2 linked regions of the Homo sapiens genome follow. The protein of the gene in region 1 purifies or fractionates together with the protein of each later gene. This does not show direct contact. Each region holds a gene or a part of one and is shown on either strand. Other genes may lie near its edges. The genes, in order: NLRP4 and SUGT1.

Region 1 (16,897 bases):
TAGCGTAAGTCTCTGTTTATTGAGACCACTGATTGGGTTTCAGAGAAGACTATAGCGTAAGTCTCTGTTTATTGAGACCACTGATTGGGTTTCAGAGAAGACTATAGCGTAAGTCTCCGTTTATTGAGACCACTGATTGGGTTTCAGAGAAGACTATAGCGTAAGTCTCTGTTTATTGAGACCACTGATTGGGTTTCAGAGAAGACTATGTATTTCTTTTTGTGTTGGGGGAGGGGGCTGCATATTTGAAGACATCCACTTTTTCCTTCTATGATTTGTATGCAAACTTAGTTTCCTGAGAACTTGGATAGGGAAGTTAAAGTTTCCCAATTGATGTAGCCATTTCGGAAAACTGTGTGTATTCAGCCTTCATGGATTCTGGCAGATTATGTAACCCAATAATTCCACCTGGAGGTGCACATTCGACAGAGGGACCTGTCTCAGTTTGCTGAAAGACAGGCACTAAAGCATTCCCAGCAGGTGTTCATAATCTCTGAGAAGTGGAAATACCACTGACAGTAAGTTGGATAAGAAACCTGTGGTTACATGCTCCTGTTCCATGAGAAAGAACACTCTCGGTCGTATGCAAAAACCTGGACAAATCTCAGACATTGTTGATGGCAATGAGCCAGACTCAAGAGTACATCCTATGGCTTTATTCCTGTGAAGTTCAAAGATGGACAAGGCTCTGGTGTTGGAGGTTCGGGCAGTGTATTCACACGTTCTCGCGCTGCTATAAAGACATACCTGAGACTGGGAATTTATAAATAAAAGAGGTGTAATTGGCTTATGGTTCTGAAGGATGTACAGGCTTCTGCTTCTGGGGAGGCCTCAGGAAACTTACAATGGTGGCAGAAGGCAAAGGGAAAGCAGGCACGTCTTACATGGGGGAGCAGGAAGAAGAGAGAAGAGGGAGGCGCTACACAGTTCCAAGCAACCAGGTCGCGTGAGGACTCTGTCACAGGAACAGCTCTAGGGGATGGTGGTAAATCACTAGAAACCACCCCCATGATTCCGTCACCCCCCAGGCCCCTCCTCCAACACTGGGATTACAGTTCGACGTGAGGGTTGGGTGGGGACACAGCCGAACCATATCAGACAGCGGTTACTTTTGTTAAGATAGTGAAGGAGAGGGGTACAGGAGAATGATGAACCTGCTCTGTTTCTTGACCTGGATACTGGTAACTCAAGTGCCTTAAATTCATGACAGTGCGTTGGCTGGCACTTAACCATTGTGTGTACTTTCCAGTATGTATGTTTTAATTCAAGCATTTTTATTTTTGCAATTAAATAAGGGTTTCCTGTAAATACTTACCCTCTACTTACCTTCATTGGTACCCACACATTCAAATACTTCTCTATACTAGTCTTTGTTGGCCATTTTTCTGAGCTTGCATCAACCGAACACAAAAAGACCCAAACCCTTTTTTAAAAAATAACAACTTTATTGTGATATCCACATACCACAAAACATATACTTTTAAAGTATGTACTTCATATATTTTAAGAAATACTTTTAAAGTATAACTATGCTTTAAAATGTACAGTTTAGTGATCCTCATATATATTCATGAGGAAGTACAACCATCATGACTGATTTTAGAATGTTCTCATTACCTCAGAAAGAAACCCCATACCCATTAGCATTCACTCCTCACTCCCTTATCTCTCTGGTCCCTGGGAATTACTAACATACTTTCAGTCCTATTGGATTTTCCTATCCCAGGCGTCTCATGTAAGTTGAATCACATGTGGTCTTTTGCGAATGGCTTACTTTCACTTAGCAAAATGTTTTCAAGGTTTATCCAAATTGTACCATGTATCAGTACTTCATTCCTTTTCTTGGCTAAATAGTATTCCACTGTGTAGATATTCCCCATTTTGTTCTTCTAGTCCTCTAGTGATGAACACTTGGGTTGTTACCACCTTTTAGCTATTCTGAATAGTGCTCTATGAACACTCATGTGTGAACACCTGCTTTCAATCCTTTTGGACTTGTAACCAGGAGTAGACTTGCTAGGTCATATAGTAAATCCATATTTAACTGTTAGAGAAACCACCAAGTTATTTTCCTCAGTGACTGCACAATTCTGTATTCCTACCAGCAATGTATGAGAGTTCTAATTTCTCCACATCTTTGCTTATTTTTTACTTATTTACTTATATTTTATTATTACTTATATTTACTTATTTTTTATTATACCCATCCTAGTAGATGTGAAGGAGCATCTCATTGTGGTTTTGATTTGCTTTTCCTGAATGACTAATGATGAGCATCTTTTCCTGTGCTTTTTGATCATTTCTATATCTTCTTTGGAGAAATATATATTCAAGTCCTTCACACATTTTTAAAAACTTTTATTTTACATTCAGGGGTACAGGTTTTTAAACATTTAAAAATTTTAACATTTAAACAACATTTTAAAAAACTTTTATTTTACATTCAGGGGTACAGGTTTATTATAAAAGTAAATGGCACGTCATGGAAGTTTGGTGTACAAATTATTTCGTCACCCGTTAATAAGCATAGTACCTGATAGGTAGATTTTTCTTCCCCACCTTCTTCCCACCCTCTGCTCTCAAGTAGGCCCTGGTGTCTGTTGTCCTTTTCTTCATGTCTATATGTACTCAGTGTTTAGCGTCCACTTATAAGTGAGAACATGTGATATTTGGATTTATGTTCCTGTGTTAGTTTGCTAAGGATAATGGCCTCCAGCTCCATCCATGTTGCTACAAAGGACATCATCTTACTCTTTTTTATGGCTGCATAGTATTCCATGGTGTATATGTATCACATTTTCTTTATCTAGCCCACTGTTGATGGGTATTTAGGTGAATAGTGCTGTGATGAGCATACAAGTGCAGGTGTCTTTATAGTACAATGATTTATATTCCTTTGGGTATATACCCAATAATGGGATTGCTGGGTTTGATGGTAGTTGTGTTTGAAGTTCTTTCAGAAATTGCCAAACTGCTTTCCATAATGGCTGAACTAATTTACATTCCTACAAAAATGTGTAAGTGTACACTTTTCTCTGCAACCTCACCAGCATATATTATTTCTTGACTTTTTTTAATAATAGCCATTCTGACCTGTGTGAGATGGTATCTCATTGCAGTTTTGATATGCATTTTTCTAATGATTAATGAGCATTTCTTCATATGGTTGTTGGCAACACCTTTGCACATTTTTAATTGGATTTTTTGCCTTTTTGTCAAGTTGTAAGTGTTCTTTATGTTTTCTGATTACAAGTTATATACGAGACGTACTTTGTGAATATTTTTTGCCATTCTGTGAGTTGTCGTTTCACTTTCTTAATGGTGTCCTTTGAAGCACAAAAGCTTCTAATCTGATGAGATGCACTTTATTTTTTTCTTTTGTCTCATGTGCTTTTGGTGCAATTGCTACGAAACCATTGCCTAACCCAAATTCATTAAGATTAACTTCTTTGTTTTCTTTTCTTTTTTTTTCCCCCAAATTTGAGATGAGTCTCACTCTGTCACCCAGGCTGGAGTGCAGTGGTACAATCTCAGTTCACTAAAACCTCCGCCTCCTGGGTTCAAGTGATTCTTCTGCCTCAGCCTCCTGAGTAGCTGGGACTACAGGTGCCCACCACCATGCCCAGCTAATTTTTGTATTTTTAGTAGAGATGGGGTTTCACCATGCTGGTCAGGATGGCCTTGATCTCTTGACCTCATGTTCCGCCCTCCTTGGCCTCCCAAAGTGCTGGAATTACAGGCTTGAGCCACCACGCCCGGCCGCACCAACCTATATCTTAAATCTAGAAAGAACATTAAAAGCATGCATGGCCTCAGAGCCCTGCTGCAGAGGCGTGAGGAGCCATGGACTCGGTGACTTGCCAATTCCACATTTATTTCTGGACAACTCCCATAATGGCTTTCATCTTTATTCTGTTGTCTCTGAGCTTATTTTTTGTGGCAACCAGAGGTAAGGAGAGTGGTTGAGGTAATAGAAAACCACACAGTTAAACCACACAGTTGTGAGGCAACACAAATCAACTCAAGCCACCAAAAAAGGAGTCCTAGGGGACTCGGGTTCAAGGCTTCTTCCATGTTCTTTGAGGAGATATTACTTGAGCAGAGACCTGAATGATAAAGATGCATCTAACCACAGGCCAGAAAAAGAGCATTCCACTTGGCGGGCACACATGCAAAATAGCCCAAGTTGAGTAAAGGAGCCACTAGACACGAGTTTGGGGAGGATCAAACATGAATAATATCTTAGAGAATGAAACCTGTGTTGTCAAGCAACTGAAAAAGAACCAGGGTGGCTGGGACATGGGGACTTGGGAATGGGTAGGACCCTTGTGGATCATGTTGTATATTTTGGGATTTTCTCCAAGTGCAGTGAGATAAGTTACTGGGGGAGGCTAAGCCAAGCATGCATATAACTGACACTGTGCGTCTCAGGTTGGCTGTCTCTGTACCCCAGAGACCGTAAGCCAAGCATGCATATAACTGAGACGGTGCATCTCAGGTTGGCTGTCTCTGTACCCCAGAGACCATAAGCCAAGCATGCATATAACTGAGACGGTGCATCTCAGGTTGGCTGTCTCTGTACCCCAGAGACCATAAGCCAAGCATGCATATAACTGAGACAGTGCATATCAGGTTGGCTGTCTCTGTACCCCGGAGGCCATAAGTCAAGCATGCATATAACAGATGGTGCGTCTCAGGTTGGCTGTCTCTGTACCCCAGAGACCGTAAGCCAAGTGTGCATGTAACTGAGACTGTGTCTCAGGTTGGCTGTCTCTGTACCCTAGAGACTGTAAGCCAAGCATGCATATAACTGAGACTGTGTGTCTCAGGTTGGCTGTCTCTGTACCCCAGAGACCGTAAGCCAAGCATACGTATAACTGAGATGGTGCATCTCAGGTTGGCTGTCTCTGTACCCCAGAGACCGTAAGCCAAGCATGCATATAACTGAGACTGTGCATCTCAGGTTGGCTGTCTCTGTACCCCAGAGACTGGGTTGACAGGGATCAAGAACAGGGTTGGGAGGCAGTGAGCCTCTCAAGGACAGCAAATGTGGGCTTCCCGACTCTGACAGGATTGGCAAGAGGAATGAGTCCAGGAACTAGAAACCAACAGAATGTGACATTTTCCCTTTCCTGCAGGCTGGTAAATTGTCACCTCTCACCCATTGATTGTGAAGTCCTTGCTGGCCTTCTAACCAACAACAAGAAGCTGACGTATCTGAATGTATCCTGCAACCAGTTAGACACAGGCGTGCCCCTTTTGTGTGAAGCCCTGTGCAGCCCAGACACGGTCCTGGTATACCTGATGTGAGTGGATGTTGGGGGTGCCTACTGTGGAGGGCCATGGCGGCAGTTCAAACCTGGGCCTATTGATGACAGTCTGCTCATTGATGGAGGCCACATAGCGGAGGTTTAAAAGCTCACGCTTAAGAATCAGAAAAGACTTGAGTTCTAGTTCAGGATTTATCACGTATATACTGTCTTCTTAAGCAAAATATTTAACTTAGAAGCAGAGGAAAATCCTGTCTTAGAGGTCTTATGGCTATCAAGTGAGACTGTCTATACAGAACACGTACTGTGTTTCAAAGCTGTTAGGTTGGGTTAATGCACCTGCAACACACATGGTACTTCCCGTGTTGATAACGGTTATTTCGAGCATGTAGAATAGACTTGGTGGGTACTCAGGACAGTAGCGGGGAAAAATGTCTATGGGCCTCTTGACCCCAGTTAATACTATAATACATGTGATGTTCTTGCAGTAATAGGATGAGAAGAGGCTATTCAAGCCAGTTTTAGGGTACGTAAAACACAGAAGGAAGACAGATGAGTAAGTGTTAAAGGCCAATTGATTTACCTATTAATGGAATTCTAATACCTTTAGGTGATACTTATACAAAAGGGGAGAGGACAGGAGAATATATATGCATTTGTGTCTTTTTTTTTTTTTTTGAGTTTTGAGTTTTGCTCTTGTTGCCCAGGCTAGAGTGCAGTGGCATGATCTTGGCTTATCGCAACCTCTGCCTCCTGGGTTCAAGCAATTCCCCTGCCTCAGTCTCCCAAGTAGCTGAGATTACAGGCATGCGCCACCATGCCTGGCTAATTTTGTATTTTTAGTAGAGATGGGGTTTCTCCACGTTGGTCAGGCTGGTCTCGAGTGTGTCTATTTTTTAAATACACAAATATCACTGGAAGAAATAGTATTATAATATAGGCTGCCTGTGAGAAATAGAACTGAGAAGCTGGGAGATAGGGGAGGATGGAGATTTTTCCCTCTTTATACTTTTGGGCATTTTGAAATATGAACAACATGAAAGTAAGAGTATTCTGAAAATGTCAAGAAAATGAGAGGATTTATACCTCGAGCTAAAATAGAGGGACAGGGACAGGACTTAACCTCCCACCTAAAACAACCAAAAATAACCAACTAAATAAAACAACTGTTTAAGACTTCAGACATCAGGCAATGAAGGACAGTGGTGCCTGAGTGATAAGGGACAAACAGGTGAGTCCTAGAATTGTCCCAGGTAACTATCTGGAGAGAGATTTCAGGATGCAGTTCAGGAAGGGGAACCCAGATGGAAGTTGGTAGACTCTGTGAGTTGGTGAAACCCCGTCTCTACTAAAAATACAAAATACAAAAATTAGCTGGGTTTGGTGGTGCATACCTGTAGTCCCAGCTACTCTCGAGGGAAGCTGAGGCTGGAGAATCGCTTGAACCTGGGAGGCAGAGGTTGCAGTGAGCCGAGATCGCACCACCACACTTCAGCCTGGGTGAAAGAGCAAGACTGTCTCAAAAAAAAACAAAAAATAAACCAAAAAAAAAACAAAAAACAACAAAGTCCACAAATGCCTGGATATGCCAGAAAATTGAGATCCGTGAGAGAAGCAAGCTGGGTGAGGCCTCCGTGGAAATGCAGATCTTGTGTCTGTCAACAGGAAGCAGTTGCCCGTTCTGTCCTAGCCTGTTGGATTTCCATGTGGGAATGCGGCTCATTATTGCCAGATATCCCAGTTTTCAACAGAGGTTGAAATCTAGATTTTACATACAATTTTACTGATGGTTATATATTGCCAACTGATTTTGTTAAACATAAAAATGCCAGGAAATCTAAATATCCGTAGGCCATATGTGGTTCGTTCATCACTAGCTTGCACCGTCTGCTTTTTTGTTTTTCTCTACTCCACACTTTTTTTTCAAAGTCAACATGGATCCTTAAAAAAAAAAAATTCATAAACTGGCTGGGATTGGAGGCTCACACCTATATTCCCAACACTTTGGGACGTCAAGGCAGGTGAATTGTTTGAGCCCAGGAGTTCAAGACCAGCCTGGGCACCATGATGAAACCCTTTCTTGACAAAAAAATACAAAAATTAGCTTGGTGTGGTGGCACGCACCTGTAGTCTCAGCTACTCAGAAGACTGAGGTGCTGAGGTGGGAGGATCCCTTGAGCCAGGGAGGTAGAGGCTGCAGTGAGCTGTGATCATGCCACTGCACTCCAGCCTAGGTGACAGAGCCATACCCTGTCTCCAAAAAAAAAAAAGTTTTGAACCTACTGTGATTTTAAAGAATAATGAAATTGAAAAAGTTGGGGATTCTACACATGAGGTAATCAATACACTTTACCAGTCCCTGAGGGAGCGGTCTCAGAAGGTCCATGTCTTGTCCAAGGACATCATCAGATGAAGAATTAGAACCAAAATTAAAGCCCTGTTAGAGTATTAGCTATGCCATATTACACGATACTTTTTCCTTCTGCATTACCCTCTTATTTTCTAATTCTTCTATCATGCAACTAAGAAGAAATGAGAGGGCCGGACGCGGTGGCTCACGCCTTGTAATCCCAGCACTTTGGGAGGCCGAGGTGGGCAGATCACCTGAGGTCCGGAGTTCGAGACTAGCCTGGCTAACATGGTGAAACCCCGTCTCTACTAAAAATGCAAAAATTAGCGAGATGTGGTTGTGGGTGCCTGTAATCTCAGCTACTTGGGAGGCTAAGGCAAGAGAATCACTTGAACCTGGGAGGTGGAGGTTGCAGTGAGCCAAGATCGCGCCGTTGCATTCCAGCCCGGGCGACGACAGCAAAACTCCATCTCAAAAGAATAAATGAGAGGAGGTGTTTTCAGATAATCCAGAACTTCATCTCAGCTGGGGAGTTTGTAAGATTATAGAAATATTACCCTGAATGTGAAATTAAGCAAATCTCCCTGAGACACCACGTCCCTCTTCACTCTCCTTCTCGTGTTTTTGTCCCCATAGGTTGGCTTTCTGCCACCTCAGCGAGCAGTGCTGCGAATACATCTCTGAAATGCTTCTGCGTAACAAGAGCGTGCGCTATCTAGACCTCAGTGCCAATGTCCTGAAGGACGAAGGACTGAAAACTCTCTGCGAGGCCTTGAAACATCCGGACTGCTGCCTGGATTCACTGTGGTAGGCTTTTTGCTGTTTCTTTGAAGACCAAGCCGTCTTTTCAAGGGCATGCACTGCTGAGAATGGGGCATCTGGAATTGAGGAAGGCTGTAGTGTCTGTGCCTGGGCATGTGAAGGTTTAAAAAATACTTGCTTCAGATTCTTGTCGAGACGTTCATGTAAACAAATCAGCACCCTGACTTCTGTGGCATGGATTTAATATGTTGCAAAGAGTTCTCCAGTGGCATATAGGTAGAGGACTGAGAGAGCCGGAATTAGGTCGGGACCTGAGGGGCAATTTCATGGCGAAGATGATATTTGGTGTGTGTTCTACAAAATGAATGCACTTCATCAGGTGCAAAAATAAAGCCAAAATTCCAGGTAGAAGGGTAAAACGTGAAGGTGGGAGATCCAAAAATACACGTGAGAATTAATGTGTGTAACAGAGAATGCTTTAGAAGAAGACAAAGGGTAGCATGAGATGAGCCAGAAAGGAGATGGTGAAAAGACTTAATTTCATGTTATCAAATAGAGAAATATCTGGGTAACCCCTGTAGCGGCGGTGGCAGTGTTTTTAGAATTACCAGTTAGGATAACATGTTGTTATGTATTTTCCCTGAAAAATACAGAGGCTTCTGAAATCTGGCAGCGTGATTTTTACCTAATCCATTAGGAAATCAGTTTAGGATTTTGTATTCCTCACTTGAAGAGTATGTTAAATAACATAACAAAAACACCAGATGCATTCTTTCTCTCCCAGTAGTGCGTTAGGCTATCTGGGCCAATCGTTGGCACTGAAAGACACCAAAAACATCAGATACAATATTAAGAAAAAATTTAAAAGCATCTAGAAGCTAAACAGAAATAATCTTTTTTTTTTTTTTTTGGAGACAGAAGAGTCTCGCTCTGTCAGCCCACGCTGAAGTACAGTGGCACAATCTCGGCTCACTGCAAGTGCTGCCTCCCGGGTTCACGCCATTCTCGTCTCAGCCTCCCAAGTAGCTGGGACTACAGGTGCCCGCCACCACGCCTGGCTAATTTTTTTGTATTTTTAGTAGAGACGGGGTTTCACTGTGCTAGCCAGGATGGTCTCAATCTCCTGATCTCGTGATCCGCCCGCCTCGGCCTCCCAAAGTGCTGGGATTACAGGCATGAGCCACCGTGCCCAGCCCAAACAGAAATATTCTTAAGTAGCAGGCTAAGTAGATAGCACTTAAGGCTATCCAAAACTCCTTAAGACGTATTAAAAAAACACAACATAACCTTAAACTAGTACTGAACAGATGCCTGAAAGAAACAAGAGCAAATTGTCTCAGGAGGTAGGTAATAGGATGACATGATCCTTGACCTCAGCTTATTCCTAAAAGGATTTTTTAAGGTCAGTAAATACCACACAGTTAAAATAACCCAACCCACAAGGAAATAAAGCTCATTGAGCCAAGGACAAGTCAAAATACAAACAGCTACCAAACTATCTAATTATCTATAAAGCTATTATACTTACTATGTTTACAGAAAAATAACAAGTTTGAATCTTAGGGAAAAGGAGATGAAATGAGCAAATAATACAACTAGAAATTATAAATATAATAACTGACTATATGGGGTGAATAGTAGATTAGACATAATTAAAGAAAAAATTAGTAAAATGGAAGATAGGTTACAATTACCTAGAAAGCAGCATGAAAACAGAAAAATAGGTAAATCATAGAAGAGGGTATAAGACTTAGATGATTAAGATGTTCTAACACACTTACTGGGAATCGCGGAAAGAGAAAATATTTTAAGAAGACTGAAATTTTTCTGTAACCAATGAAAGATTCCAATTCAGATTCAAGCATCCAAATAAGCGCTTAACAGGATAAATAGTGGAGAAACTGCAGAACACCAGATATAAAGATGTTGGTCTGTAAAGATTTAACAAGGGGCTGGGAGCTTGGGGCGGGGGAAAGTGATATCTACAAGAAAGGAGACAGACTTGGGTGAAGAGTAATAGTGGAAACCAGAGGGCAGTACAGTGAGATATTCAGTATGGCGGGGAGACGGGAGGGTGGATTGTCAACCTAGAATTCTATAGCCACCAAAAACTATCAAGAATGAGGATAAAAACACATTTTCAAATAAATACCAAGTTTCTTACCACCAGATCCTTCCTAAAAGTAATTCTAAAGACTGTTCCTTAGACAGAAGTAAATCATTCCAGATGGAAGAGAGATAGAGCAAAGAGAGGGGTAGATCTCTGGATAAATCTAAACAAAATGTGGATTGTGTATAAAAATAATACCATCTTGAAGATTTAATGGAAAAAATATACAACAGCCATAACAAAATATAAAGGGGTAAATTAAGGTGAATACTCAAATTAGCAGAAAAGAGGAGACAGAATGATTAAAAAATTCCCGATCCAAAAAAGAACAAGGAAACAAAAATTGAACAGGTAAGAAAATATGAAACAAGATATATATTTGAATTCAAATATGCTAGTAATTAAACGAACAGATTAAATGTTTCAGCTAAAAGATTGCCATATTAAAACGTAACTAATGTTTATAAGTTACTTATTAAAACGTGAGGTTGTGGTTGTACAACATTGTGAACTGTAGTAAGTGCCACTGAACTGTTCACTTTAATATAGTTAATCTTAAGTAAATTTTACCTCAATAAAATGATGAAAATGAAAGGATAGAAAAAAAGACCACGCAAATATTAAAAGGAAGCTTACGCAACTGTATGAATCAGACAAAATAGAATTTAAGACAAAGTATTATTCGGTTCATGCTAATTTTTAAATTATCTTCCTACTCAGTTGAACTTTAAATCTTACAAGGTGAACATAATTACTTCCCATATAGAGTCCAGGAATCTAAGAGAAATCATAATGGAAATTAGAACATATGTTGAAATGAAAAAGGAATATACTTTGCAACAAACTCAGATGGAGCTGTAGTGCATGTATATATTTTAAAAGGAATCTAAAGAATAATGAACTTAAGGATTTTTTTAATGGTAAAATAAACCCCCTAAAGGATGGAAGGAAATAAAAATAAGGACAGAAACTAATGAAACAAAAATCACAATGGAAAAGATCAGAAACCTGCAGGGTGGTTCTTGGAAAAAACAGTTTTTGTTAATGCCATCCTATAGAATATAATGCAAGCCACACATGTAATATTAAATTTTCAAGTAGCCATATTAAAAGTGATGTAATATTTGAAAGTAATTTTATAAGTAAATATTTGAAACTAATTTTAATAATATAGTTTATTTAGCCATATATCAAACATCACTTCAATATGTAATCAGTACAAAAAATTACTAATGAGAGATTTTACTTTTTTGTATTAACTCTCTAAGGTTCACTATGTATTTTATACTATGGCACATCTAGATTCAGACAAGCTACATTCCAAGTGCTCAGTGGTCACACGTGGCTGGCTATCACACTGAAGAGTGCAGGTCTATGTCAAGAATGGGAAAAGAAACATTACTACAGATGCTACAGATATTAAAAAGATTACATATGAGCAACTTTACACAATAAACTTGAAAATTTAGATATTTTCAAGACTCAATAAGCTTCTAAAATGATAGAACCTAAATGTACTCAAGACAAAAGAAAAATGAATCAGTCAAATCTTTTTATATAGAAAATTCCAGGCTTAGAAGCCTTCATTGGTGATTCTTACCAGACATTCAAAGAATAAATAATTCCACTCTTACATCAGCTTTTTCAGGATCAGAAGAGGAGAAACTCCCCACCATTTTTTGTGGCTAGCATAATCTTGATGCCAGAAACCAATAAGAATTTTATTGGTTGTAATATAATCCTTACAATTTTTGTAAGAAAGCAGAATTAAAGGCTAGTGTCATTCATGAAATGCAAAAACACTGAACAGAATATTAGCAAGCAGAATCCATAAATGTATTAAAAGAATAAACATAATGACTAAGTTGGGCTTATCCCCAAAATGTAAAGTTGCTTTAACATTAAAAAGATTAGTAAAAAAATCAATGTAAATCACTTTACTGGTTAAAAATAAAAATCATGATCTAAAATGCAGAAAAGTTTGAATTAAGACATACAATTCTTGAAAAACTATTTGGGAACTTCCTTGATGATCTAAAGAATATGTTCAAAAAAATCTAAAGCAAACATTTGTCTAATGATGAGAGAAAAGCTTTCTCTTCAATATCATGAAAAAGATAAGAACGGTGGCTATAATCACTTCTAGTCAACAGTGTCCTGAAAATCTTAGCAAATGCTTCAAGGTAAGAAAAACACTAAACCTGTAATCTTTGAAGAAACACCTAATTCTATACAGATGATTTGAATGTACATAGAAAAATCCAAGAAAATCTGTAGCTAAGTTATCAGAATTAGTCTAACAAGCTTGCTTGAAACAATATATCAAAAACAGTTACTGATATACCAACAAGAAGTAATAAGCTAGTGGAATTAAATAAAAGTACCTTTTACAGTAACATAAAAAAGAAATTACCTAGAAATAGCTACTGTGATATATGTGAGACTTTTATAGAGAATATGATCAAATTATGGTATAAAACAATGTTATATTCAAAGATTGAAATATTCAGTATCTAAAAAGTCAGTTTTCTGTAAGTTGAATTCATTTGCTTTCATGAAATCCCAGTGAAAATGCGATGTTTTTGTTTGGTGATTGAGTTGAACTTGAAAAGTAAATTTTAAAATGTGTATGGAACTTGCAAGAGGCCAAGAATACCTAAGAAACACCTAAAATATAAAAAGTGGGCCAGGCGCGGTGGCTCACGCCTGTAATCTCAGCACTTTGGGAGGCTCAGGTGGGTGGATCACCTGAGGTCAGGAGTTCAAGACCAGCTTGACCAACATAGTGAAACCCCGTCTCTACTGAAAAAAAAAAAAATACAGAATTAGCTGGGTATGATGGTGGATGCCTGTAATACCAGCTACTCAGGAGGCTGAGGCAGGAGAATCACCTGAACCCGTGAGGCAGAGGTTGCAGTGAGCTGAGATTGTGCCGTTGCATTCCAGCCTGGACAACAGGAGTGAAACTCCGTCTCAAATAAAAATAATGTAGGAACTCTTGCTCTAAATGTGTCATCTAAAGTTTTAGAAATTAAAAAAGCATGAGATTCACACAGGGATAAGCAGACAGACCAGAGACACAGAATAGAGATCTCAGAAACAGACTGATCCACGTGTGTTCAGATGTCGCATCATGGAATAGCGTATCACTGGTGCAGAGAGAGGATAGACCTCCAACAAACGATGCTGAGACAATTCAGTTGTCCCTCCATATCCATAGGAGGTTGGCTACAGATTTCCCCTGAGGAGTCCAAAATCTGTAGATGCTCAAGTTCCTAATGTAAAATGGCATAGTGTGTGTTTTGAGACAGTCTCTCACTTTGTCGCCCAGGCTGGAGTGCAGTGGTGCGATCTCAGCTCACTGCAATCTCTGCTTCCCGAGTTCAAGTGATTCTTGTGCCTCAACCTCCTGGGTAGCTGGGACTACAGGCACGCATCGCCATGCCCGGCTAATTTTTTGTATTTTTTGTGTTTTTTTTAGTAGAGATGAGGGTTTCACCATTTTGGCCAGGCTGGTCTGGAACTTCTGACCTCAGGTGATCCACCCACCTCAGCCTCCCGAACTGCTGGGATTACACGCATGAGCCACCGCATCTGGCCTATATAGTGTTTGCATATAATGTACAGGCATCTTCCCATAATACTGTAAATCATCTCTAAGTTACTGTGATATGTAATACAATGTAAATGTTGTGTGAACAGTTGTTATACTCTATTGGTTTTTTCGTTTGTATTTTTTAGTGTTGCGTGTTATGTGTTATTGTTTTAATTCTTCAATAATTTCAATCTGCCACTAGTTGAATCTGTGGATATGGAGGACTGACGGTGCCTATCCACATGAATGACAAAGGCTGTCGTGCTTTGGTGTCTCTTTTCCTGATATTAGACTGAGGTGTAATAGCCTTTAAGCATGGTACCCTTACTCCTTTGCAGTTTGGTAAAATGTTTTATCACTGCTGCTGGCTGTGAAGACCTCGCCTCTGCTCTCATCAGCAATCAAAACCTGAAGATTCTGCAAATTGGGTGCAATGAAATCGGAGATGTGGGTGTGCAGCTGTTGTGTCGGGCTCTGACGCATACGGATTGCCGCTTAGAGATTCTTGGGTGGGTATCGCCAAGCTCCTGGTTATGTTTTCATGAGTGGCAAAGACGGAAAATGGATGGGAAGAAAGAGAAAGATGAAAACTCCAACAGGACCACATAGCAGCTAGCTGTGGTTGCATCATGAACCAGTGTAAAACTTCAGGGCTTAAGGCAATGAGAAGTTAGATTGCTGCTGGCTCTGCTTGTCTGGGCAGGCGTCACTGACCTCAGCCAGGTGTGCTTAGGAAGCTGTGGTTAACTGAGGGATTGGCTGGTTTGGGTTGACCTTGCTATATGGTATGGAGGTTGGCTGGCTGGGTTGGCTGTCCCCTTGGGGATGACAGGTGTAACTGGGCCACGTCTCATTATCTAACTGGTTGGCCTGGGCTCATTGACATGGCATCTGTATCAGTTTGCCAGGGTTTAAAAAGTAGCATGGACTGGGTGGCTTAGGTAATGAATTTATCACTTCACGGTTATGGAGGCTGAAAGTCTGAGATCAAAGTGTCAGCAGAGTTGGCTCCTTCTGAAGGCCATGAGGGAGAATCTGCTTCAGGCCCTTCTTGTCTTGTCGATAACCATCTGTCTTCTCCCTGTGTCTTCATGTTCTCTTCCCTCTGTGTGTGTGTGTCTAAATTTCCTCTTATAAGAACACCAGTCATATGATTAGAATCCCCCCAGTGTCCTCATTTTAGCTTAATTGCCTCTATAAAGACCTTGTATCCAAATATGATCACATTTTGGGGTACTGGGGTTTAGGACTTCAACGTATAAATTTTGGCAGGGACAGAAATGAGCCCATAGCAGCATCTCAGGAGTTCAAGAGATGAAGTATAGAAAACATCCAAGATCACCAGGTGTGATAGCTTAGTCCTGCAGTCCCAGCACTAAAGGAGCCTGAGGCAAGCCAATAGCTTGAGGCTAGGAGTTCAAGAACAGGCTGGGCAACATGGTAAAACCCCATCTCCATAAAAATTAGCCAGGCGTGGTGCATGCCTGTAGCCCCAGTTACTCAGGAGGCTGAGGAAGGAAAATTGCTAGAACCCAGGAGGTCAAGGCTGCAATGAGCCATGATCATGCCACTGCACTTCAGCCGGGATGACAGAAACCCCATCTCCACAAAAATTAGCCCGCAGGCGTGGTGCATGCCTGTAGTCCCAGCTACTCAGGAGGCTGAGGCAGGAAAATTGCTAGAACCCAGCAGGTCAAGGCTGCAGTGAGCCATGGTCATGCTGCTGCACTTCAGCCAGGATGACAGAGACCCCATCTCCAAAGAAGAAAAACACCCAAAATGGTGGCTCAGAACTCTCCTAATCTTGCTTCCATTGTTATCTGAGACGGCTTCATACCTTTTTTTGGATAATATGTTATATTATCCAAAGCAAGGTATGAAGCCGGAAATAGACTCTGTTAGTGGAATGAGCTGCAAAGTCACATTGCTGTGGGCAGGGATACAGAGAAGAATGGACACTTATGGCTACTTTTACCACCTACCCACAGACGCGTGATCTGAGGTCGTAAACACTGGACTGTGAGAGATTGCACTTGAGGCAATGGGGTGTGCCTCAACTAGACGTCTAGCTCACATCCCATCCTACCTCCACCCTGAGGCTGGGGCCGCATCTTACCATGTGTCTTTTTATTGCAGGTTGGAAGAATGTGGGTTAACGAGCACCTGCTGTAAGGATCTCGCGTCTGTTCTCACCTGCAGTAAGACCCTGCAGCAGCTCAACCTGACCTTGAACACCTTGGACCACACAGGGGTGGTTGTACTCTGTGAGGCCCTGAGACACCCAGAGTGTGCCCTGCAGGTGCTCGGGTGAGCTGGGGTCTGTTGTGCTCTATGGGCAGAGTGCTCCGGGCTAAGAAGGGATTGGCTGGGACCTGCAGTGTAATCACGTTGCATTTAAAATGCAAATGATGTTCCTTGTCTCAGGGTTGTTGCAGGAGTAAGAACCAAGCAGGTGAGTATAAAACTCTTACCACAGTAAGTGGTGAACAGTGAATGTCCAACAAATGGAAACACTTGTGAAGTGGCCTCATTGTCTGGGGTAACACCCGAGGTTCATTGTCCCAGGGCCGTGGAGATCCAAGGACGCAGAGATCCAAGGACGCAGATACACAAAGAGTGAGGTTAAGAGCAGAAGTTTAATAGGCAAAAGAAAGAAGAGCTGTCTGCTACAGAGAGGGGTCTCGGAAAAATGGATTGCCCGATCCATGGTGAAATGCAGAGGGTTTTATAGACGAGCTGGTGGGAGGTGTGGTGTCTGATCTACATAGGGCATGAAAAACTGGTTAGGACCAGGTGTGCCGTTTGCATAG
Region 2 (16,897 bases), on another chromosome or scaffold:
TGAAAAAAGTCTGCAAGAAGAAAAATCAATACTTTTCATTGAGTGATTACTGGATGTCACATACAGATCTAGGCAAGCCCAACACCCTGGAGTCATCTTCAGTTTCTCTTATCCCACATGTTCACCCATTAGCAAGTCTCTCTGCTTCTAATATGTTCCAACTTAATCGTATTTCTTTTCATCACCTCTGTGGCTAACATCCTTTTCTAGCCTAGACTTAATGTAATAGTTTCCTAAGAAGTCTCCGTTTCCAGTCTTGATTTGATAATGTATTTACCATACTGCAGCCAGAATGACATTAAAAAAAAGTAAATTGGACCATGTTCCCCTTACTAACAGTGAACTTTCCATGGCTTTCCATCAAACGTAAGGTCCAAATTCCTTATAACTGCCTGCAAGCTACAAAGTGAGGCCCTTAAAGTAGCATCTTACAGCTTCTTTGCTCTCTTGATTTGAGCCTTACTTTCTGTTGATTGACTGTAACCCCATGTGAGTTGAGGAGCATCTGTATATGTTGCTTTCTGAGAGTCACACTACTAGGTTAAAGCAAAGTCAATGATACATGTGGCTCTTGAAATAATTTTACCATTTAAGAAAACTACCAAATCCCTAGAGTTTGTAGGCAGTTGGCAGAAAATAAAAGTGTTCCTGCACTTGTCTTTGATCTCCCTAATTGTGTAATCTCTTACATCATTATTTTTCCAGCTACCACACCTATATGTTGTGACTGCACAAGTTAAAAAAGTTTCAATCTCTAATGTTAACTCTTGGTAGTTGACATAGCCATCTATTAGATTGTATCTGGGCTTTGAACAGAATATTTAGTTGGGTTTTATTAGAGTTGTGTGCTATTGTTAGAGGCTAGGAGAGGGCCAGGTACACTTGATTGTGTATGTATTGATTGTCTTAACCTCCCTGAGTGCTAGATTTAACTTCTGGTCTTTTTTTATTGCACAGCTTAACATTTTCTAGGAATCTCAAATTCTATATGGTGTTTGAATCTTCTTCAAATTAGTAGGAGGAAATCTGTAATGGTCAATGTGTAACAATTAAACTCTTCAGAATATATGAGCTGATAATAATGATCATTTATTAAGTTCTATAGACCAGGAACTAAAAGCTTTACGGTACAGAGATGCTACATTAGATTGCCTACTTTTGGGAGGAGGGGCAAGAGAAGTGGGGGAGATATTGATCCTTTTATAAGGAAAAACTCCAATATTATATCCGTGTTATCTTTCCTCCAAATAGCTTCTGACAATAAGTTACTTGATTAAAAATTATGTTTTAATTAGAATTTGATGGCTTCTTACAAACTTTTACTGACGCTCCACATGTTTGTTTTTGTAGGAGCTGACTAAGGCTTTGGAACAGAAACCAGATGATGCACAGTATTATTGTCAAAGAGCTTATTGTCACATTCTTCTTGGGAATTACTGTGGTAACGTTTCTTATAAAGTATATTGCCCCCTTTTAATAAGTTACTTATACATTTTACCCATGACAAATTAAAAGTTGTCTTTGAGAATTTTTAAATTGGTCTTTTATACAAGGTAAAGTAGCTCAAATGTGACAGACATGTTGAGCAACACCCATTTAAATTTTATGGATGTCGCTTTTTCCTTCATTGGGTGGAGAATGTATACAGATTTCATTCATAGTTATTGGGTATGCTGATAAAAAATAGCATCACATTTACTATTTGACAGACTATTAAAATGAAATGCTCGTTTAAATTTTTTTTATAAAAAAGAATGTGGCCAGGCATGGTGGCTCACGCCTGTAATCCCAACACTTTGGGAGACCAAAGCAGGAGGATCATTTGAGCCCAGGAGTTCAAGACCAGCCTGGGCAACATAACAAGACCACCTGTATTTAAAAAGTAATGTATTTCTGTATTTTGTACCTTCTGAATAGGGAAAAACTGAATACCTTGAGTAAAATTACATAGAAAATGTTAATGAGACAAGGAGGTGAATTTTGTGACACAGCTGTATTCATTGAAGAGCTTTAAGAAGGAAGCTAAATGTTAAGCCAAAAGGAAGGTACAAGAGTAATATTTATTTGAATTCTATCTTGTATTAGCTTTTCCTAATTTAAAACCATTTGGCATTTCTACCAACTTGAAAACTTAGAAATCTAAAACTGATTCATATGTTGTGTGTATTTGCTAGGATCTATAAATAACTGACTAAAAACCCGTCTTTTTCTACACAGTTGCTGTTGCTGATGCAAAGAAGTCTCTAGAACTCAATCCAAATAATTCCACTGCTATGCTGAGAAAAGGGTATGCAGTAGCTACTCTTCTTGTTGAGCTTGGTATAGATAGTAGGTATTTAATTTGTTGAATGAGTTCATTGCAAGCTTTATATAAGTTGTAAAATTCTGTATTTATACATTATATAGCAGAGATATGATTCAATTTTAAATACAACTTATAGTTCTATTATTTTGTTAACCAAAGTATGTGATAGGAGATCTGTACTTAGTAAATTTTAAAATAGTGATGATTGAAGTATTTGCAAGGTATAGATGAAACTGATAGATTTCACATTGCTTTTTTTTTTTTTTTTTTCAATCTTTTGGAATTTACTATATTTAATTGACTGGACAACATCCTATTCAGCAAAGCTGAATAGGCTACATTTAATGCTATGAAAGCGCTATATCTGTATACTTTATATCCCATCTTGTTTCTGTTGATAAGTATAACTATTCTTTAAGAAACTTCTTTAATTCCTTTGTATAATTATATTTTTGAGTAAGCAAGTCTGTACAATTAAAGTCAGATTCCTTCTGAAGTGAGTTCTAAAATTGAATTTTAGTAGGAATTGTACTAGATCTTAACAGTATATTAGAAAGTCTCTAGGTTTATTAACATACACTTAAAATAAATTTTTTCTTTCAACAGTAGAAAATACTAAGTTTTTTATTTAGAAAGAAGGTATTTTCCAGATTTTTTGTGTGTCTTAATTTGTTTTAAATATATTCATGCAGAATATGTGAATACCATGAAAAAAACTATGCTGCTGCCCTAGAAACTTTTACAGAAGGACAAAAATTAGATAGTAAGTATTAAAAATTATACTTTAATAAACTTATCTATTTCTGTCTTAAATACCAAAGCTGAATTTTGGTAATGTTAATTTCAAGTTAATTGTAGAAACCCAATACCTGTTTTTCTCATCTAAATTATATTTCATATTGATTGCAGATATGAGATCACTTAAAATCGATTAAATTAGCCTTTTGGCATTTAAATCATAGATGAACTTCACCATTAGAAGTAAAAAAAACTATGGAAACACCTAACATGCTCTCTCTGTTTAGTCTGGCTTTGTTTTTTTCTAATGGAGAAGTGAAAGTTTAATTTGCCTTGGTCAGAAGTCTGTTCATTTTAAATTATTCAGATTGCTGAGATGTGAAATCTTAACATTAAAGGTTTTTATGGAGAAGTGAAGTGTACGTTTGGGTAAATTATGAGAGGGTACAGAAGAAACACAGTTTTGAGAGTATTGTGACTTTTAATGTTATATTCTTGAGGGAATATATGAAAAGTATCACAGTGGTGTGGATATCTAGACATATAGAAATTGTGAGAGTCAAGAATATATATATATATATATATATATATTTTTTTTTTTTTTTTTTTTTTTTTTTTTTTTGAGACGGAGTCTCACTCTGTCGCCCAGGCTGGAGTGCAGTGGCGCGATCTCGACTCACTGCAAGCTCTGCCTCCCGGGTTCACGCCATTCTTCTGCCTCAGCCCCCCGAGTAGCTGGGACTACAGGCGACCACCACCACGCCCGGCCAATTTTTTTGTATTTTTAGTAGAGATGGGGTTTCACCATGTTAGCCAGGATGGTCTCAATCTCCTGACCTTGTGATCCACCCTCCTCGGCCTCCCAAAGTGCTGGGATTACAGGCATGAGCCACTGCACCCAGCCGAGAGCCAAGAATTTTTAAATCTGAAAAATACTAAGAGGTTGTGAGTAATTTCAGAAAATTGGAGACTACATAATCCTACTTGTATTATCATTTTATCTTTATGTTATGATAGAGTTTTATCACAGTTCTCTAAAGAAGTGGTTCTTAACTGGAAACGGTTTTGCTTCCCAGGAAACTTTATGCAATGTCTGAAGAGATTTTTGATAATCATGAATGGTGGATGGGGGTTGTGCTACTGACATCTAATGAGTATAAACCAGGGGTGCTACTAAATATTCTATAATGCCCAGGACAGTTCTGCCTAACAAAGAAGTATATGGTCCAAAATGTCAGTAGTGCTGAAATTAAGAAACTTCACTCTTAGTATTTTATGTTACATTCTTACTCTGTACTGTTTTGAATGTTTGCCTTTCTGTTGTGTACCTATTCAGAAAAAAGGATTTTAGCACTGATTATGCAAATGGAAGCTACAAATTAAAAAAGGAGAGGTCTGGGTGATAAGGCTTATTCTCAAACTTGCTTATCCCAGTTTTGGTATGTGAATAGTAGGCCTATTCAGTCAGCAAACAGGACATCTGCACTCTTAGCAAATTCTAGAGTGAAGTTATGTAGTGCCTTGGTACCTAATGTGAAAATCCTGAAGAAACATGAGTCATACCATTCTCTACATTTTCATTTTTCTTTCTTTTTTTAGCGAGAGAAGGTCTCGCTCTGTCGCCCAGGCTGGAGTGCAGTGGTGCGATCTTGGGTCACTGCAGCCTCCACCTCTTGGGCTCAAGTGATCCTCCCACCTCAGCCTCCTGAGTAACTGGGGCTACAGGCACATGCCACCACACCTGACTAATTTTTGCATTTTATTTTTTGCAGAGATGGGGATTTGCCATGTTGCCCAGGCTGGTCTTGAACTCCTGGACTCAAGCGTTCTGCCTGCCTCGGCCTCTGAAAGTGCTGGGGTTACAGGCATGAGCCACTGCGTCTGGCCCCTAGATTATTTTCTTGAGTAATATCTTAATATCATGCCATTGACATTTATTCTTTAGTTATTTCAGAGGTGGCCTTCAGAGGAAGACCTGTTTGGTAAAATTGCTGTTGAGGATATTTTACTTAAAAATAAATTTGTCTTTAAATCCAGGAAACTTTTTTTGTTGTTGTTTTTTGGGGTTTTTTTTTGTTTTTGTTTGTTTGTTTGTTTGTTTCTTTTTTTGAGACTGAGTCTCACTGTGTTGTCCAGGCCATAGTGCAGTTCTCTGTCTCTCAAGTTCAGGTGATTCTCCTGCCTCAACCTCCTGAGCAGCTGGGACTACAGGCATGCACCACCAAGCCTGGCTAATTTTTGTATTTTTAGTAGAGACGGGGTTTCATCGTGTTGGCCAGGCTGGTCTCCAACTCTTGACCTCAAGTGATCCACCTGCCTTGGACTCCCAAAGTGCTGGGATTACAGGTATGAGCCACCATGCCCGGCCAAAATCTGGGAAAAAGTTAAGTTAAACTTTTAGGCTTCTATTTTTATCAGACAGGGTAAAGAATTGTTACCTTTTCCCCTCTTTGTGTGATAAATTGCTTGGTTTTAGTTACTGATTACTTAAAATAATAGGTTACTCAAATCTTTTTGATATAATAGATTTTGATACAATAGTTCTCTAGAATACAGTGTGTGTGAGAGTGTATTTAAATTTTTTATTAATGCTGGTATAGTTGGATTTCTTTTATAAATTAGTAAAGTAGAAATTTTTGTTAAGAAATTTTTAATTTAAGATTTTCAAATTTATCTTGTCTGCAGTTAACTTGAATTAATAAGCTCTTATTTAGAGTACTTTTAATACTTTTAACATATCTTACTATGCACTGTGACTGTTTAAATGTAATCATTGTTCTGTGTCTCCAGAAGTGAATAATTTGTTTATGCATACATTTACACTGTTATCTATAAATATATAATACATCACCTATAGCCTCTCGACTGCCATGTAACTTGGAGATAGGACAAAACTTCACGGAATTTAAAGATGCTTGGTGTTGGTAGGAAAGGCATGGTAACAGATAAAGCCACTGAGAGAATAGTGGACTGAATAGGTATCTGCATTGAAGAGCAAGCTGGGGCTGGGAACGGCTTTTGAACCTCAACTCAGCTCCCAGTTACCAAGCCTCCTCCCCACCCTAACTGATGGCATATTGGGAGTCTGATTTACATCTGATTTTGTTCTGTGTGTGAGGAAGCTTCTCTAAGAGCAGCGGGATTGGGGGAAATGCAGATTATTTGTATCTGTGAAATTAAGGTTGACTGTAGTTAAAATTTTTAAAAAATCAAAATGTTTCATGATTAACAACTAAATGTTAAACTATTGGTATATTTATAACTATAGTAGAGTTGGTGATAAGGTCTGTTAAGACAGGTTTTGTTCGCTGCCGACTCCCCAGTGCCTAGAACACTGCCTGGGATGTAGTAGGTATTCAGTAAGTATTTGTTGATTTATAGGTTGTGCAGATGAGTGATGTTATAGTCAGTTTTTTCTTTCTAGGTGCAGATGCTAATTTCAGTGTCTGGATTAAAAGGTGTCAAGAAGCTCAGAATGGTATGTGGGTCTCCCTTGGTATTTGTTTCAATTTAAAAAGAAGTAAACATCTGAAATTTTTTTGGTTTAAACAAATTTGTTTTTATCTTTATAATTTCTTTTAAATAGTATACGTTTCCTTAGATGTGGACTTCCAAAGATACACTGGTTTTTGCATAGCTTCTTATGTTGAAAGGGGGATTTGGGTGGATTTGCTTGTATGGTATATCAGTAAGAAATTACTAAGGAGTCTAAAATGAATTCAGGATGCAAAATGAAACCACTTTTCTTTAGTTGAAAGGTACGGAGAATTTGCTTGCTTAATCAGTATGTTTGTGCTATAGAAATCATACAAATAACTTTGCTTAAAAATGCACTGTTCCCTGAAAATGTTTCCTTTTTATGTTTTAATAGGCTCAGAATCTGAGGTGGTAAGTCCAAAGTTTTCATTCTTCATGTTTTTATTATTTTAAATTTCAGCTACCAAATATATTTGAGACAAGACTCAGGATGAGCTGTCTGATATTTAAATATTAAGCAATTCCATTTAAGTGCTGGTTCCTCTAGGCACTGAAATAAAATCATTTTTTGATAAATATAGAAGTTTCCAGTCATGAAAATTATTGGCCTATTTTAATGAATTTAGTGTGTGGTTAAAGTTGATTTCGTGTGTTTTAATATGGTCATGATGATCATTTATCTTTTCGTTACTAAAACCTTATTGCATTTATTTAGGTTCAACAGTTTGAATCACTTGTAGGGCTTTTTATGATAGGCTAAGACAAAAGTTAAAGAAAATTGGAAATTGACAGGGTCTTGCTCTGTCATGCAGGCTGGAGTGCAGTGGTGCCATCATAGTGCACTTGAGCTTCAAACTCCTGGGCTCAAGCAATCTTCCCACCTCAGCCTTCCAAGTAGCTGGGACTACAGATGTACACCACCAAGCCTGGCTAATTACTCTGTTTCTTTAAAACGATTTTTAAAACAATGTTATTTTAGTTTAGGAAGTTGCTGAATCTTAGAACTGGCCATTTTATATAAGCAACCTTTTCTAATCATGCCTTTAGAAGTTTTCTGTTATTTAAAGTTCTGTTATTTTAGAGCAAAAATCTTTTATGAAATTCAATCTAAGATTTTTTAAATGCTGAGCATTCTAATTTTTTTCCGAAAACTAGTGGTATTTAACAATTACAGTTACTATGTCTTTGAAGAAAATTTTCATGTAGTTATTTTATATCAAAATAACTGCAGTGTTGGGTAAATTAATAATACATGCATTTTAATAATACAGTTGCTAAACTGACTTGTAAAAATCTTTCTCTTTCAACTTACCAAAATCAATCTGCATCCCAGTGGACTCATCAGTCAAAAATCAAGTGAGTGTTTCTTTTTCATAAAACAATGCATGATAAATATGCCTAAAGAGGAAGAAACCCTGTAGTTTAATAGTAAGCAAATTCTTACCATGTGATTTTTAAGTTTTTGTTTGTTTTCTAAAATTGTGTAATAGCTTTATGTAAAGCCAATTTTAAGGCTGTTTAAGGATTAATATTTGTACTTCAGTTAAATTCAAATCATTTCTCATCTTTAAAGTTGCTTCACTTGGTTTCATATTATGTTACCTTTCCATATGTTAAGGAGAGTCTCTTCCAGTTAAGTTTATGTTACTACACAGGTAAACAAGTTAGTAGTAGATCTAACAGAATTGTAACTTAACCTGCCTTTTATATTTGGAGCAAATTTTTCATAGGAACATTCTGTATGCGTTGAAAGTTAATATTGCTGAGGGCAGCAATTATAATAATGAATAAGCAACTAGCAAGTCTTTGACTTTTAATTATTCATTAGCCTGTGTACAGCTTGTATTCTTAGGACCGTAACAGAAACACAAGCCGTTGATCTGGAGCTTTGCATCCTTACTGAATTGCAAAGGGAAACCGAGACTCTTAAAGTTCATTTCTTTAATCAAGGTGGTTTTGGATATAATTACCTAAAATGGCCTGGAAAAGTTAAAAACCATCTATTCATGGTAGTTGTGGGGAGATACAGGATGAAACTCCAAGTACCTAGTAGATAAGGAACTTTGACTTGCCCTGGTGGCAGCAGCAGGGGTAGGGCACATAACCATGAAATAATAATTAAGGTGTTCAGAGCATAAAATAATCCCACATCTAACTTAATATACGTGTACCGGACACTGTGCTTGGTCCTAGGGATATAATAGCGACAGGATAAACAGCTCTGCCCTCAGAGAGCTTTTAATCTAGTCTAATTTGAAAGTGAGGATTCCTACGTTTCTAGAGCTTTCAGTACAAAAGATGCACATAATTAGAATCTAGACCCATTAGTCTTTCCATGTATCTTGAAATTGAAGGAAAGTGTTGTATATGATGTTGTGCCTGACACAGTTAAACTTCATATGATTTTAATTTTAGTTCATTTGCCCCTGTTTTGTGTGCTCAAGTCTATCTGCTTCCAACATCAGTTTTGAGAGCTTGGAGTGTTGACTCAGGCTTATTGCTTCACCTTTCTGAGCTTAAGTTTTATCATCTGTAAAATAGGGATTTAAGTGTTTATCTGTAGTATTTGGATGAAATGAGAGTATAAAAACTCTATTGATGGCATATAAATATTAGCTTGTTTAAAATAAATGACATCTTTAATATTTATATTAGTTTAAGCACAACAGTGCTAGAGATGAGTCAGAACCCAGAAAATCATGCAAGTATTTAAGTCTACTGGAAAGGTGTGAGCATCATTTACCTTACCATTTTTTTCCATTAGTACAGAGCATAAAAAACTAGTTATATAAAGTTGTTTCTGTGAATCAGTAGTTGCTTTGCTGTTTTCTTCCTCCAGGTGGGGCTCTTGTTGTTTATCAGACTAGTTTTTGTTTTGACAATAGCTTTAAAAAAATTAGAAGAGTTACCTAAGTTTCTTTTTTTTTTTTAATAGGTATGACTGGTATCAAACAGAATCTCAAGTAGTCATTACACTTATGATCAAGAATGTTCAGAAGAATGATGTAAATGTGGAATTTTCAGAAAAAGAGGTCAGTAGACTGAATCATTTTTCAATGTTGATTACTATTATTTGCAAATTTAGTATATTGCAGAATAATCGATAACGGTTTATCAGATAAATGCTATTTCTTCCTGAGATGATTTGGAAAATGTTGAATAAAATCTGAAGCCATTGCTTTGAGGTAAGAATATGTATGTTGGTAAATTATAGCTGGATGTGCATTTTTTTCTTTAGATTTGAAATTTAAAGCAGAATTTGGTTATATTAGTAAGATAATGTGCTTTGGTTATACTTGTGTGGTGTACTTCATGAAAAAGATCTAGTTAGTTTTGTGATCACACATGTCTTAGAATTGACTAGCCATGTTAAATGAGTATGACTTTTTTTGTTGTTGTTTTTTGAGACAGAGTCTCGCTCTTGCGTAGGCTGGAGTGCAGTGGCGCAATTTCGGCTCACTGCAGCCTCCTCCTCCTGGGTTCAAACAATTCTCCTGCCTCAGCCTCCTGAGTAGTTGGGACTACAGGCACATGCCACCGTGCCTGGCTAATTTTTGTAGAAACGGGGTTTCACCATGTTGGCCAGGCTGTTGTCGAATTCCTGACCTCAAGTGATCTACCCATCTCAGCCTCCCAAAGTGCTGGGATTAGAGGCATGCACCACCGTGCCCAGCCTCTTGAGTATGACTTTTAACAACTTGATTTCTTACCATTTAGTAGAGAACCTTATAATAGATTATTTAAAAGAGGTAGTGATAGAACTGTATGTTTTGCACATGGATCACTTTTTGTTATATATCATTTTGCTTTTGTATGTTTTCTTGAAATCTAAATATCAAATAGGTGTGATTAAATATATGACAAATATTATGAAACTTATTCTTTTCTGCTGTTTAATGATGTCTATAAGAATTCATGTCAAGGATACCAGATGGAAAAAAAAGGTTCTTAAATCTTTGAGAACCTTTTGAGGTTCTTAAATCTAAAATTCCATATATAATGTTTAAAATAATTTGTAACATTATTGAAGATTTGTCATTATTTTGTGTAGGTTTTTTACCCTCCATTATATACATTTACAAAATGTGATGCTAATTTTGTGTTCATTAGTTGTCTGCTTTGGTTAAACTTCCTTCTGGAGAGGATTACAATTTGAAACTGGAACTTCTTCATCCTATAATACCAGAACAGAGCACGTTTAAAGTACTTTCAACAAAGGTAAGACCATTGAAAAGTTTGTTACTAGTAATATTTTCAAAATTATAGAAATACTGGTGAACTAATCACCCATGTGTTTATAAGCTTGTAGATTCTTTCAGCCCTTTAACAGGGACAAGAAAATAAGAATGATAACTTTTGAGTATAAGGGTTATTTTACCTCTCAAATTCTAGTACAGTAAAGAATAAAAATCCACTTAGAGTGTGTGGCATTTGTGTATTTACTAAGACAGATATAATGTTTTTCAATAAAGGGGTTTTTTTAAAAAGATACAATAATCAGCCTGTCTTTAAGATTTGATACTGACAATGTCTCTTCCCTTGAACTTGTCAGTTTTGTCTGTTTTGATGTACAAATACTTTTGTCACCCTACCTCATGCAGTTAAAAATACAAACTACAAGAAAGATGAATCTGCCTTTTGTTTTTTTTGTTGTTGTTGTTGAGACGGAGTCTTGCTTTGTTGCCCAGGCTGGAGTGCAGTGGCGTGATCTCGGCTCACTGCAACCTCTGCCTCCTGGATCCAAGTGATTCTCCTGCTTCAGCCTCCCAAGTAGCTGGGACTACAGGCATGCACCACCACGCCCTGCTTAATTTTTGTATTTTTAGTAGAGATGGGGTTTCACCATATTGGCCAGGCAGGTCTCCAACTCCTGACTTTTTTTTTTAAACTGAATTTTAGATTACTCTATTATGAGGGAACAATGAGTAAATTATAGTTTGAGTAATTTTTAGATTCCTTTATAGTTTCTAAAAGAAGTAGAGATATACAACAGAATTAATATTCAGAGAGTATCACTCAAAAGATGTAGATAATAGTGTAATTTAGTAGGAAAAAAACTGAAAATTTAAAAATCTGACTCTGGATCTTTGCTTGCCCTGTGTATTTAGTCTAGGCACAAAATGACTATAAGACTGAATTTTCAGCACCTTTGAAAGGAGGGCTGTGGACCAAATGAACTCTGGAGTCCTTTCAGCTGTAGAATTGTGTGAAGGTATATGATAAATGAGTTAATGGGAATAAATGATGTAGGTAGGCTTTTTCCATTACTACTTTTTTTTTTTTTCCTTGTTTTTGAGATGTAGTCTAGCTCTGTTGCCAGGGTGGAGTGCAGTGCTGTGATCTCAGCTCACTGCAACCTCCGCCTTCTTGAATCAGGTTCAAGTGATTCTCCTGCCTCAGCCTCCTGAGTAGCTGGGATTACAGTCATGTACTGCCACGCCCAGCTAATTTTTGTATTTTTGTAGAGATGGGGTTTCACCATATTGGCCAGGATGGTCTTGATCTCCTGACCACGTGATCTGCCCACCTTGGCCTCCCAAACTGCTGGGATTACAGGTGTGAGCCACTGCACCTGGCCTATTACTCCTTTTTTTATACATAGGTCCTGCAGCATACTGTGTTAGTATTTATTAGGTTGAAGCTCTAAGGACATGTGAAGTTTCCTGTTGTGGAACAGGATCGGGGTTGGCCTGTGTTGTGAAGAATGATAATTGGGCCTGCAGAAAGGACACAGCTGCAGAGGGTTGGAGAAGAAAGTGTAAAGTGAAGTAGTTTTTTGCATCCAGTTAAAAAGGATCTGCCTACTTATTTGAAGATTGTCAAGAACAAAGCTGGTTAATTATGAGGCAGATTTTTGAAATAGCTGCTTGGGACAATAGAAAGTGAGGAAAGGGATGAAATCTTACCAGGATTTTGGTCTCTCACTGGTCCTATCCACATAGTATAGAATTTGTTTAATAAAAGAATTTTTAGTAATCAAGCACAAAATAGGTAGATTTGAGAGGGATATAGTTCATAAAATAATGAATTTGACTTTTTTTGGTATATGTCTATCGAGATTGCTAATGCAAGTGAGCTGAGATCACTACGTTGCACTCCAGCCTGGGCAACAGAGTGAGACTCTGTCTCAAAAAAAAAAAAAAAAAGATTGTTAATGCATGTCCATTTGGAGTTATTTAAATTGAGTGTGAATTAATGATAAATGACTTAAGAACTTGTATTACTGAGCCACCTCCTATAGTGGAAGAATATCATGTGTGGTAAATACATAGATGTGTGGCTAGAGTTGAGGATGTAATTAAGCACTCTTATCTCAATTCTTTTTTCTCTTTTGAGTCTTGGATTTGTTAATTTTAACCATTCTTCAACCATACTACTATGTTCTCAGTTTGCCTTTTCTGCCCCTTCCTCTTTAAATGCTAAGTGACGACTTTTCTTCCTTATATAGTAGTTTATGTATACATTTCATGTCCCTCGTTTCTGTGTAAGTCTTTGAGGATAAGAAGCATGTTTTATTTGTATCTTTGTATGTGCCCCAGTTAGGGTCCCCAGATAAAGTTACAAGATGTTCATTTAAGTTTCTATTTAAGATAAACAATGAATAATTTTTATTATGTAAATATGTTTCATGCTATAATTTTATTTGCTAAACTTGGCAGCCCTCACCACATACATTGCACAGTGGGTGCTTAGTTCAGTGAATGAATTAAAATTGGATTTTGGTTTTAGTCCCATGACATTGGCAGAGAATGTTTATTCTTAGTTTTGCAGGTGGAAAAACAATCATGTTAATGGAGTTTAAATACTTTCCCCAAGTTTACCTAGTTAACTAAATTCTTCAGCCTGGCCTAGGAGACGTAGATACACTTCTGATTGCCAACCAAACTAGTGCATCTTTGCTTAGGTTTTTCTAAGTTTTGAATTGGAGAACTTAGATTCTAAGGATGTGTCCTAAAGAATTATTATTTTTCTTGTCCTGACCCTGGAATCTCTGTATTTTATATACCATATATATATATATGTGCACACACAAAATCTTGTTAGATTACTAACTCTTAAACTATTTGGGGGGAAGCAAATTGAAAGAAGTTTTCTTAATTATGTCTTAAGGGAAATAAATGATAAAATCTTTGAATTTCCTTTTTCATACAGTAGAGGGAGACAATATTAAAATACTGAAAATAAAATATCTGGGTTACTGAGGCTTACTTCGTGGACACTTAAGAGACAACAGTACTAAAATAATTTGCTTTTCATGTATTCAGATATCTTGATTGTTGAGATATCTTGGACCTTTGTGAATTGAGAAAGGACGCATTTTGCAGAGGAGAATCTGCTTAATAGTAGAGATTCTGTAAAATTTGCAGCTTAAAAGGGCGATTTCTTTGCTTTTGGGAATTCTCTTTTCTTTCCCACCTTCAAGATTGAATGAATGTTGCATATCCATGTATAGCCAGTGGTTAAATATTATTTATTTGAGTGATATGTAATTTGTGATGAAAGTAGTAAGAGGTAAAACCCTGAAATTAATGAAGTAGCATTTCTTAACTATTTTACAGTGTAGTATCCAATATGTTTTTCCAAGCCAGGATTCATATTTTTTCAGTATCTCTGATAGTTATTGCTACTTTTTACTGAATATCAGCTTTAATGTCAGCCTATTAATTTTTTAGAAATTAAGAAACTATATGTCTTTCATCTTGTTGATTTCATGACACTATTCTCTGGTCACAGTCTCAGAATTGTGACTTTAGTGGCACCCATATTGTGAAATACTCATTTTAAAAATTAATTTTCATTCCCTTTAAGATTTAGAATTCACAAGTCGGGCACGGTGGGTCATGCCTGTAATCCCAACACTTTGGTAGGCCAAGGCGGTCGGATCACTTGAGGTCAAGAGTTCGAGAACAGCCTGGTCAACTTGGTGAAAACCTGTCTCTACTAAAAATACAAAAAATGAACTGGACGTGGTGACGGGTGCCTGTAGTCCCAGCTACTCGGGAGACTGAGGCAGGAGAATCGCTTGAACCTGGGAGGCGGAGGTTGCAGTGAGCCGAGATCATGTCGCGCCACTGCACTCCCGCCTGGGTGACTGAGTGAGACTCCGTCTCCAAAAGAAAAAAAAGAATTAGAATTCTCAGTCTTTTGGGGTGAATTTGCCCTTGTGGAAATGTTCTTGTATTCTTAAGTCATAGTTAAGTCATAGTAATTTTGCTGATTATACAATATAAAATACGAAGGCCTGGAATTGTGAGAAATAAAAATGTCTGTCTTAGAAACAAAATAGCCTCCTTTTCTCTTCTCCCACTTTGAGAAGTTTTAGAGCGTATCCTATTGCTTAATGTTCATAGAAGAATATATGTATGTTAAATAAAAATCCTGGTGATAATATAATGGAATGGGGTATCTGGGCATGATGCTTCCTTCTGCTTGTCTGAATACATAGATATGAGAGTTTTTAAAATTATTGTTTTCTTTTGCTTTTTTAGTACAGTGGTGGTGATAATAGTGAGATTTCTTTTTTAACTGAATTAGTTTAAAAAAAGATCACAAATTGTAGATCTTGGAATGTATTCTTATCTTTTCATATATTTTGTAATGTATATTTATATATTTTTAAAAGAATTTTACATAATTTTTAAACAGCTACATTTTGTTGATATTTTTATCACATCCTTACATATTCAACAGCAAAGTATTTCGGCATATGCATGTACTGTAGCTTATTTAGCCAGTCCCATTTTGTTTGACCTGTGGAGAATAAGAATAGGTGTTTTGACTGTTTTATCACATTCCAGGCACTGTACTATGAATTATCTCATGTAATTCTCATAGTTACTGCATGGTGTAGGTATTTTTATCCCTAGTTTACAGGTAGAGAAACTTAACCCAGAGATGTTCAATAATTTGCCCAGGTTTTTTAGCTGAGGATATTGATAATAGCATTCTGTTGTTATTTGCCAGACGTGGTTCTTTATTCTTTTCATACATAGTGTCATTTAATCTTCTTGAGAACCCTAAATGAGTCAGGGCCTACTGTTCTCATTTTATAGGAGAAACTGAGGCTCGCTGAGATTGAGTTGCTTGCTTATGGTCATATATCTAACCAATGGCACCTATTTGTGACTCTTCTAACTATACAACTGATTGTTTTTGTGTTATTCTCAACCCCTGGTTATTTCTTAGGAAATAAGTTAAAATTCTAGCTGAAAAATGCGCTTACAGCAAATTATTTCATATCTTGGCTCCCACATCTCTAAAATATGGATAACAATCTTTTTTAATAGGGTGATTCCGTTAAGTAAGATGATATATGTGAAGCATGTAGCATGCAGGATATGTAATAAGAGCTCAATAAATGTTACAGTACCTTTCTTACTGTTTTATTTTAGTTATTTCGATTTTTATTCGGGCTGTAAACTCAGCAAATGCGTTATCATAGAAAATCTGGAAAAGATAAAGGAGTTTAGGAAGTAATCACTCAGACTCACCACTCAGATGACATTCTAGCATGTTTCCTTTCAGATAACCTGATATTTCCTGATACATAGGTCAGTCACTACACCTGACACATACTGGAATCTTTTTGTTTATGGGAATGTCTCTCCTGATTAATTACTTTAAGAAGAACAGAGGCTGTGTCCTTATGTACCAGCACTGTTTCTGGCACAGAGTAGGTACTCAGCAAATATTTGAAATGAGCTGTTAGAAGTTTGGAGAAGACCTTCAATCTTCTCCATTCATTGCCATTTTTTTGCATTTAAAAAATGATTATAGAAATATTTTAGTGTAAAATCAAGGTAGATGTATTAGTCTGGGCTCGAAGGCAGCTATTTTCAGACAAAGGAATTTGATGTAGCAATTAAATGTGAAAAGAGCTTAGTAAGAGTATGTTGGGAAGGCTGTATTCTGAAGATTAGGGGAACAATTATTTAATGAGTACAGTCTTGAAGTGTATGGTTCTTAAAAGTTTGCCAATAAATTGCCCCAGCTCTTTAGTCTCTGGGAAAGATCCCTTCATGTCAGTCTGTAATAGTAGGTGGGATCTTACTTACCACTTAAGATGGTGGTGTCTGGATATCATGATTGCTTAAGCGTAATGCCATCTCTTTAAATCTGAAATTTCTTTCATTGGAAAGAATTAAACTCTCTGCTATGCAGAGGAGACTTCAGAAGTGGATGGTAGTACCTATGCTGTTGAGAGCTAATGATCCAGCACATTAGGGATTCTTAGTGTAATCTGTGAATACTCTTTTGGGATATTAGCAACTTGAGAGCCTTCCCTGTACATATGAGAGCAACATTCAAGCAAACTACCAAAGTTTTAAGTTACTTTTAAAGTTTTTTTGACTTAAATGAAAATAGAATGGTATGTTA

The links.
Region 2: the proteins of NLRP4 (region 1) and SUGT1 purify together in Homo sapiens (affinity purification with western blotting; 2 studies listed by BioGRID and IntAct, with this or other methods). This does not show direct contact.

What each region holds. Positions count from the first base shown.
Region 1 is NC_000019.10:55,862,571-55,879,467, forward strand, and holds part of NLRP4 (NACHT, LRR and PYD domains-containing protein 4), read left to right. Parts: intron 1-5,138; coding exon 5,139-5,306; intron 5,307-8,256; coding exon 8,257-8,427; intron 8,428-14,425; coding exon 14,426-14,596; intron 14,597-16,223; coding exon 16,224-16,394; intron 16,395-16,897.
Region 2 is NC_000013.11:52,656,182-52,673,078, forward strand, and holds part of SUGT1 (protein SGT1 homolog), read left to right. Parts: intron 1-1,350; coding exon 1,351-1,441; intron 1,442-1,917; exon of another isoform or gene 1,918-2,026; coding exon of another isoform or gene 2,027-2,045; intron 2,046-2,217; coding exon 2,218-2,287; intron 2,288-2,997; coding exon 2,998-3,068; intron 3,069-5,293; coding exon of another isoform or gene 5,294-5,389; intron 5,390-6,467; coding exon 6,468-6,521; intron 6,522-6,914; coding exon 6,915-6,931; intron 6,932-7,853; coding exon 7,854-7,876; intron 7,877-9,455; coding exon 9,456-9,552; intron 9,553-10,630; coding exon 10,631-10,738; intron 10,739-16,897. UniProt on the Homo sapiens protein: May play a role in ubiquitination and subsequent proteasomal degradation of target proteins.